Linked DNA regions of Homo sapiens. The protein of the gene in region 1 purifies or fractionates together with the protein of each later gene. This does not show direct contact. Each region holds a gene or a part of one and is shown in the gene's direction. Other genes may lie near its edges. The genes, in order: EIF4EBP2 and TBCA.

Evidence for each region.
Region 2: the proteins of EIF4EBP2 (region 1) and TBCA fractionate together in Homo sapiens (co-fractionation; one large-scale study listed by BioGRID). This does not show direct contact.

The regions. Positions count from the first base shown.
Region 1 is NC_000010.11:70,417,622-70,421,433, forward strand, and holds part of EIF4EBP2 (eukaryotic translation initiation factor 4E-binding protein 2), read left to right. Parts: intron 1-2,292; coding exon 2,293-2,478; intron 2,479-3,812.
Region 2 is NC_000005.10:77,773,487-77,777,827, reverse strand, and holds the start of TBCA (tubulin-specific chaperone A), read left to right. Parts: upstream 1-1,488; 5' UTR 1,489-1,570; coding exon 1,571-1,623; intron 1,624-4,341. UniProt on the Homo sapiens protein: Tubulin-folding protein; involved in the early step of the tubulin folding pathway.

The DNA.
Region 1 (3,812 bases):
AATTGCAATTCTTTAATGTATGCGTTGTTGCTGATACATAATTTAGAAAGCTTGCTTCTGTGCTGTGCTTTTTTCACCACCTCATCTCCACAATTTCCAAGCTTGATGTACTACAGAAGTAAGAATAATCTTGTTCCAGTTTGCAAGTTGACTCATCTGACAGTGAAACCTCACCCTTCTGAAATCTCATCATGAACAAAAGTGGGGTAACTCAAACAGATAGGCAAAGTCCATTGTTAAAGCTCCTTCCCTTTGTTCATTGGAAGGCCATCAGACCCCCTTTCAGCCTATTTGCCCTTATTTTACATAGCATGCTAATAAGCAAGTTGCTGATTTCCAAACCCACCAGACTAGAAACACCAAGTTAGAAAGGGTGTTAAGGGTGTGCTATACAGATTGAATTGTGTCTCCCCAAAATTCTTATGTTGAAACCTTAATTCCCAACATGATAGTATTAGGAGGTGGTGCCTTTGGGAGTTAATTAGGCTGAGTTGAGGTCATAAAGGTGGGACCCTCATGATGGGATTTGTGCCCTTATAAGATGGAACACCACAGAGTTGAGGCCCCCTTACCCCCATGTAAGGGACACAAAGAGAAGGCAGCTACCTACAAGCCAGGAAGAGAGCCCTCACCAGAAACCATCCATGCTGGCATCTTAGTGTTGGACTTCTAGCCTCCAGAACTATGAGACAATTTCTGTTGTTTAAGTTGTGCAGTCTGTGGTATTTTGTTATGGCAGCCTAAGCTGACTGAGTCATAGTAGTAGCCTGGAAAAAAGGTAGCTCTTAGTCTAAGGGGACAAGGGCACTGTGGGGGAGGGGTGCACCAGCACAACTTTGACCATCCGAACTCTGTATAGTGATGTTCAGCTGTACAGAGCACCAACTTGATAGGGCTTAGAGACTTCTTAGGTCACAACATAGTATAATAAACAATTTTCATAATACTGTGATTCATCAAGAGGGTTGAATCATTTTCTGTTGAAGGCCATAAAGGGATTTAAATCTGTATTAGAAGTATTTTCATTCAAGATAATTGAAATTGTTTACCCTTTGAAAGTTGAACTAAGTTTTGTGCTACCCAGAATGCCTCGTTCCTCATAATTTCTAGATGCCTTTTTGAGTGCTACTCTAGTTTTTGTTTTTCAAAGCAAAGAGGTTGAAGGTAAGTTTCTACTTTCCTTGTCCTAAAATTATATTTGATTTACATTTTGAGGCAGGATCTTGCTCTGTTGCCCAGGCTGGAGTGCAGTGGTGCAGTCATAGCTCACTGTAGCCTCGAACTCCTGGACTCAAGCTATTCTCCTGGCTCAACCCCCGAGTAGTAGGGACTTCAGACCAACAGCACCTCACTTGGCTCTTTTTAAAATAATTTTTTTAGAGACAGGGTCTCACTATGTGGCCCAGACTAGACTCAGACTCCTGGGCTCAAGCAGTCCTCCTGCCTTGGACTCCCAAACTGTTGGAATTACAGGCATGAGCCACCATGCCCAGGCTCTCTTGTCTTTTTGATAATAGCCATCCTAAGAGATGTGAAGTGATATCTCATTGTCGTTTTGATTTGCATTTCCTTGATGATTAGTGATGTCGAGCACCTTTTAATGTACCTGTTGACCATTTGTAAGCAGCACGTTTCCATAACTGTTTATCAGTTAAAGTGTACTCTTCAAAACTATTGTTTTTAAAACATTCAGGTAGCACTTAACTGGTAAGCAGATTGTTTTGTAGAATAGAGAGGGGCTGCCAGTTTCAGCTTTGACTATAGCTGTGAGAAGAATGTTAGTCTCAGTCCTTCTTTGGAAAGCCTTTAAAAGGGGCTGTTTATTTTTTCTCATACTTGTTTATTCTTTCATTTAAAACTTTTTTTTTCTTAAAGATGTTAATGTTAGGGCCTAGGTCACATATAAATAAGACATAGCCCTGACATAAGAAACTCAGAGTCTATAAAGAGAGACAGATGGATAAACAGGAGTCCTGTAATACATGATGTGTGTAAGATGGAGAGGAAGAACCTTTTAAAAAAGTGAGGGGTGGGGGTGGCTTCATAAAGGAAGTGATGGTTGGAGCTGAGTCTTGAAGGATCAACAGGAGTGTCCCTGGCAGAAGAGAAAGGGCATTCCAGATGGCAGAAGAGCCTGTTTACAGGCAGAGAGGTTAGAGATTATGCTTTCAACTTGAATTGTAAAATCCTTAAAAGTTAGGATTACATGGGATTTAAATTAAATTCCTGGGTGGTATTATATGTTGATAACCCCTTAAATTGTTTCAAACTCTTTTTAACCCTGTTTTCCAGGAACTCGAATCATTTATGACAGAAAGTTTCTGTTGGATCGTCGCAATTCTCCCATGGCTCAGACCCCACCCTGCCACCTGCCCAATATCCCAGGAGTCACTAGCCCTGGCACCTTAATTGAAGACTCCAAAGTAGAAGTAAACAATTTGAACAACTTGAACAATCACGACAGGAAACATGCAGTTGGTAAGAGAATGGCGATGTTGGAGACCTAGAGCGTGGCTCTTGGAATTTGAATGTCTGTTTGCTGTAGGTTGAGAAGCTATTGATTCTTCAGTTTTGTTTTTTGTTTTTTGTTTTTTTTGAGACACAGTCTCATTCTGTCACTGAGGCTGGAGTGCAGTGGCACAATCTCAGCACACTGCAACCTCCGCCTCCTGGGTTCAAGCGTTTCTCCTGCCTCAGCCTCCCGAGTAGCGGGGATTACAGGCGCCTGCCACCACGCCTGGCAAATTTTTGTATTTTTTAGTAGAGACGGGGTTTCGCCATGTTGCTTAGGCTGTTCTTGAACTCCTGACCTCAGGTGATCCACCTGCCTCAGCCTCCCAAAGTGCTAGGATTACAGGTGTGAGCCACTGTGCCTGGCCAATTCTTCAGTTAATAACTAATGTTCAGTTATATGTCTCTAAGGTTTCCCTCCTCCCCCAAAGGTTTCTTGAAATACTCTGAAAACCCTGAATTCTAAATCATAAATCTGATGTAGTTGGTGGGAGAAAAGAATCCAGAATCAGGATGATAAACCCCAAAAATGACTCTTTGAACCATGCCTTAAGGACTTCCTGGCCTAGGCTTCATTGGACTAAGGATAACACACACAGAAAACAAAACAATTTCATAGCCCCCATTTCCATCACCCTCAGGCAAATAGACCTTGTTTCTTTTGTTTTGTTTTGTTTTTTGAGACGGAGTCTTGCTCTGTTGCCCAGGCTGGAGTGCAGTGGCACGATCTCGGCTCACTGCAAGCTCTGGTTCCCGGGTTCACGCCATTCTCCTGCCTCAGCCTCCCAAGTAGCTGGGGCTACAGGCGCCTGCCACCACGCCCGGCTAATTTTTTGTATTTTTTAGTAGAGACGGGGTTTCACCATGTTAGCCAGGATGGTCTCGATCTCCTGACCTCGTGATCCGCCCGCCTCAGCCTCCCAAAGTGCTGAGATTACAGGTGTGAGCCACTGCGCCTGGCCGACCTTGTTTCTTATATGAGTTTCTTTTATATGGTGTGAGGAAAAGCGGTATGGTTTATTTCCTCTATTTTCCAGAACTGCGTTTAAGGTTTACCTAAATTACCCCTCCTCCAACACATTCTTTTTTTCTTTATCACTGTAGAAGCAGAATGGTGCGGTAGGAGTGGCCAGCTCCTGAAATATTCCTCAGGGACTGCACTTGGTGACCCCTAGATGGGGGCCAGCATTCCGCTTTGTCATATTTCAGATGAGTTTTTTAATGGACAAAGTGTTAGTTTGGAGCAGGGCCAAAGTCCAAAGCCTCCAGAAGAATGTGCTCCCCTGAGAGATGGCAAAGAG
Region 2 (4,341 bases), on another chromosome or scaffold:
ACAAAACCCTTACGAAGGACCAAACAATAATTTGAAAAAGAAATATACTAAAAATAATGATGACTACTGGGTGACTCCAAAGCATCCAGGGAAGATTGAACAGGTGGGGTGAGTCATAGTAGACTTTGCTCAGTTTTGATCCTGGATTTAAAGTAACGGCCTTGGGCTGGCGGGATAGAAGGGGATTCCAGGACCAGTCATGAAAGTGAGAATGAGTAAGTCAGGCTAGGGAAGGAAAAAGACAGTCATATGGGTGTCTTTGAAGGATGGTACCAAGAAATTTTAAAAAGGGGGTGGGCTCGGTGGCTCATGACTGTAATCCCAGCACTTTTGGAGGGTGAGGTGGGCCTCACCTGAGGTCAGGAGTTCTAGCCAGCCTGGCCAACGTGGTGAAACCCCGTTTCTACTAAAAATACAAAAAAAAAAAAAAAAAAAAATTAGCCAGGCATAGTGGAACGCGCCTATAATTCCAGCTACTCTAGGGGCTGAGGCAGGAGAATCACTTGAACCCAGGAGGCGGAGGTTGCAGTGAGCCGAGATCAAGCCACTGCACGACAGAGTGAGAATCTGTCTCAAAAAAAAAAAAAAGAAAAAGAAAAAGAAAAGCAATTTTAAAAAGGGCGATTCTGCCCTGTATTCCTCAGGAGATTCTCTTAGGAAGGGACTGCTAGAGCTCACTGTAGATGTGCCTCATTTTATGCAACAAATATATTTTTGAACATATAAAATAGTCAAATGTTGTTCAGCATCTACCATGCGTCAGACAATGAGCTAGGTGTTTTAACCCTTATACCTAATCTGTAAAATGGACATTATTATTTCCATTTTGCAGACTGATCAGCTGCAAGGCTAAACAGCATACGTATCAGTGTTGTCTAGCTAATAGTCTAGCTATTAAAGGGTGGAACCTCGATTGTAAGCCGGTTTGTCTGATTAGGAAGCCCAAGGTTTTGTGTGCGACACACATTCTTGTAAGTTAAATATTTAGGATACACTATAAGTGATCATCTGAAGAAGTTCTGTTAGTCATTTCCTTTGAAAGGCACGTTATCTACAAACCTTCTTGCAGGGATTTGAGGTAAAGGGCAAGGATTTTCTTGACTGCGTGCATGATGGCAGTTTGTTTCACTACACATGCATCACTCTGCCTCATCTGACACCAGATAACGACATCGAAAATACCCTTAATACATTTTTTAGGTCACTCCGTCCATTAAGCAGATAATCCCGCAAAGCAACGTCCCAGAGAGACGTTAGTTTCCCCAAAGGCCCAGGCTGTGGAGACCGGGATAGTGTAACTTGCGCCTGAAGTAAAAAGAGGGGCAGTCCGAGAGAGAGGAGGAGGGCACGTTTCACTACGGGTAAAGGGGCGCACGAGGGGTAAAGGGACTGGCGGGAGCAGGGTACCGCCCTCTAGTAAACCCGCCCCGCGGGGCGTGGCGGGGACGACGGGCCGCGCAGCCTGCGCATGCGCGCCGGCGACCACGCCTAAATAGCCGCAGCCTCTGCGCGTCGCCCTCCACGGTTACCCCGGCTCTCCGCCCCTCCTTCTCGCGGCGCTCGAGGGACCATGGCCGATCCTCGCGTGAGACAGATCAAGATCAAGACCGGCGTGGTGAAGCGGTAAGGAGCCGGGAGCGGCGCCCTGCACCTCCTCTTCGTCACCTCATGGCGGCCCGCGAGGCTGAGCGGAGCGCAGGCCCGAGGAGGCCCGAGGCGGGCTCCGAACTCCAGGCCGCACCCGGGGCTCCGCAGTTGGCTGGGACTGGCAGGGACCCAGCGGGGCGCGCTGACGCCCGAGCCCGCCAGCCTCGCACGCCGCTTCCCGTCCCTCTCCGCTCACTGGCCGCTCTGATTTGCCGGAAGAGTCGGCGGTGGCCCGGTTTCTCGGCGCCCGCGGTGGGAAGGTGGTGGGCCGCGGCCTGCGAGGGCGGGCCGGGCCCTGATCCCGTGCCTCCTGTGTGCGCGCGCCGGCCTCTCCTTGCTGAACTTGGCCCGGGGAAGCGGGATCCCAGCTGTGCTCTCAAATGGGCTTGAAAGCAGGCTCTGAAGTTTAGGGGGATGCGGAGGATCTGGGCCTCGTCAAAAAAGACCGTAGTGGAGCCGTGTGACCTAACATGGCTGGCGTGACTGGCAGGCTTTGAGAACTGGGCCTGAACTTCTAGCACACTCAGCAAACTTATGTGGCCTCACTTTCTCCAGTCAGATTCCCCGAAGCTCGCCCCAGAGGCTGTGAGATGCTGTTTAAATAACTTGTGAACCAGAAGTATCTGAGACAGGTCTTAATTTGGAATGTTTATTTTGCCAAGGACGTGCCCATGACACAGCCTCAGGAGGTCCTGATGACATGTGCCCAAGGCGGTTGGGGCACAGCTTGGTGTAATACGTTTTAGGGAGACCTCAGATATTAGTCAATGGGTAAGGTGTACCTTGGTTCCCTCCAGAAAGGCAGGACAACTAGAAGGTTGGGGGGCATCCAGGTCATAGATAAGAGACAAATGGTTGCATTCTTTTGAGTCTTTGATCAGCTTTTCACTTAATACACAATTTACATGTGAGAGAGGGATAGAAGAATAGTCACTTATGCCTTAGTCGGCTAAATGAATCTGCGATTTTACATACACAGTAGGGCAGAGGAAGCAGTCAGTTACGCATTTGTCTCAGGTGGGTAGAGGGGTGACTTTGAGTTCTGTTCTTTGTCCCATACCTGTGAAGATAAGCTATCAATTTACATTGCCAGGGTGAAATACAACAGAACTGTTTTAGAGTGAAGGTCTTGAGGCCCACAAGGAATTTCCTTGGGGGCAAATTGTCAGGGAGGTATGTAGCTTTTTTTTTTTTTTTTTTAATCTTTGTAGCTATCTTATTCAGGAATAAAATGAGAGGCAGGTTTGCTCGATGCAATTCCCAGCTTGACTTTTCTTTTTGGCTTAGTGATTTTGGGGTCCTGAGATTTATTTTTCCTTTCACAAACTCATGGGTAGTGCAGTCCTGTAATTTGCTTAAATTCCTGTAAACCAAGAAAGTACCTGAGACAGGTCTCAATCAGTTTAGAAGTTTATTTTGCCAAGGTTAAGGATATGCCTGTGACAGCCTCAGGAAGTCCTGATGACATGTGCCCGAGGTGGTCAGGCTACAGCTTGGTTTTATACATTTTAGGGAGACAGAAGACATCAATCAATACATGTACGATGTACATTGGTTTGATCTGGAAAGGCAGGACAACCCAAAGCGGGCTGGGGACAGTTCCAAGTTATAGGAGGTTTTCCAATTGGCAGTTCGTTGAAAGAGTTTATCTTAAGACCTGGAATCAATACAAGGGAGTGTGTCTGGGTTAAAATAAAGGGGTTGTGGAGATCAAGGTTCTTATTAGGCAGATGAAGCCTCCAGGTAGCAGGCTTCAGAGAGAATAGATTGTAAATGTTTCTTATCAGACTTAAAAAGGTCCCAGACTCCTAGTTAATTTTCTAGTGGATCAGGAAAAAGACCTGGACAGGGAAGAGGGTTCTCTACAGAATATAGATTTTCCCCTTAAGAGACATCTTTGCAGGGCCAATTCAAAATATGTAAAGAAATATATTTTAGAGTAAAATGCTTTTATTTCTTTCAGATCCCGCTATCTGTCCTGTGATGCCATACTAGAGTAAAGCTGGAATTTGGTGTCTTATTGTTACAAAAAGCCTTAAGATCTGTTTTAATGTTAATGCTGCTCAATTGTTCCTGAGTTCCAAAGGGAGGAATGTGTAATGAGACATGTCTGACCCCCTCTTCCCATCATGGCCTGAATTACTTTAGAATGCCCTTAGTTGAGAGGAGGGGTCCATTCAGACGGTTTTGGAGCTTAGAATTTTGTTTTTAGTTTGCATTCCTGAGTGCTGGTAGACCCTTCAGTGTTCATTAGAACTTTATTGTTCAGACCCAAGAAGAGCAAACTTTTTGATGAAGTATTACAAGAGAAAAGATAAACAGCCTTCTGAAGAAGCAAGTTATTTTGTTGTAGCAATGTCTACTAAAGAAACCAACTGGCTTCTTCCTGTTCGCCCACCTTTCCTTTGTTTATTGATATTTCCACCAGAGGAAGGACCAGGCAAAAGGGAGAATAAATTCACTTTTTAAGATAATGCTTCTGAGTTTTAGCACAGCATCCCACTTCCCGGGAAGCTTTATTGCCAAGGCAATAAGGAGACCATGTGAGTAGGAGTTAAATGCACAGCCATTTGTGAAGTGAGACTGCTTGGGTTCAGATCTTGATTCTGCCCTTTATTCTATGTTGTGGAATATATTACATTGTGCTGTGCCTCTTTTACCTTATTTGTAAAATAGAGCAAGCACCCAACTCAA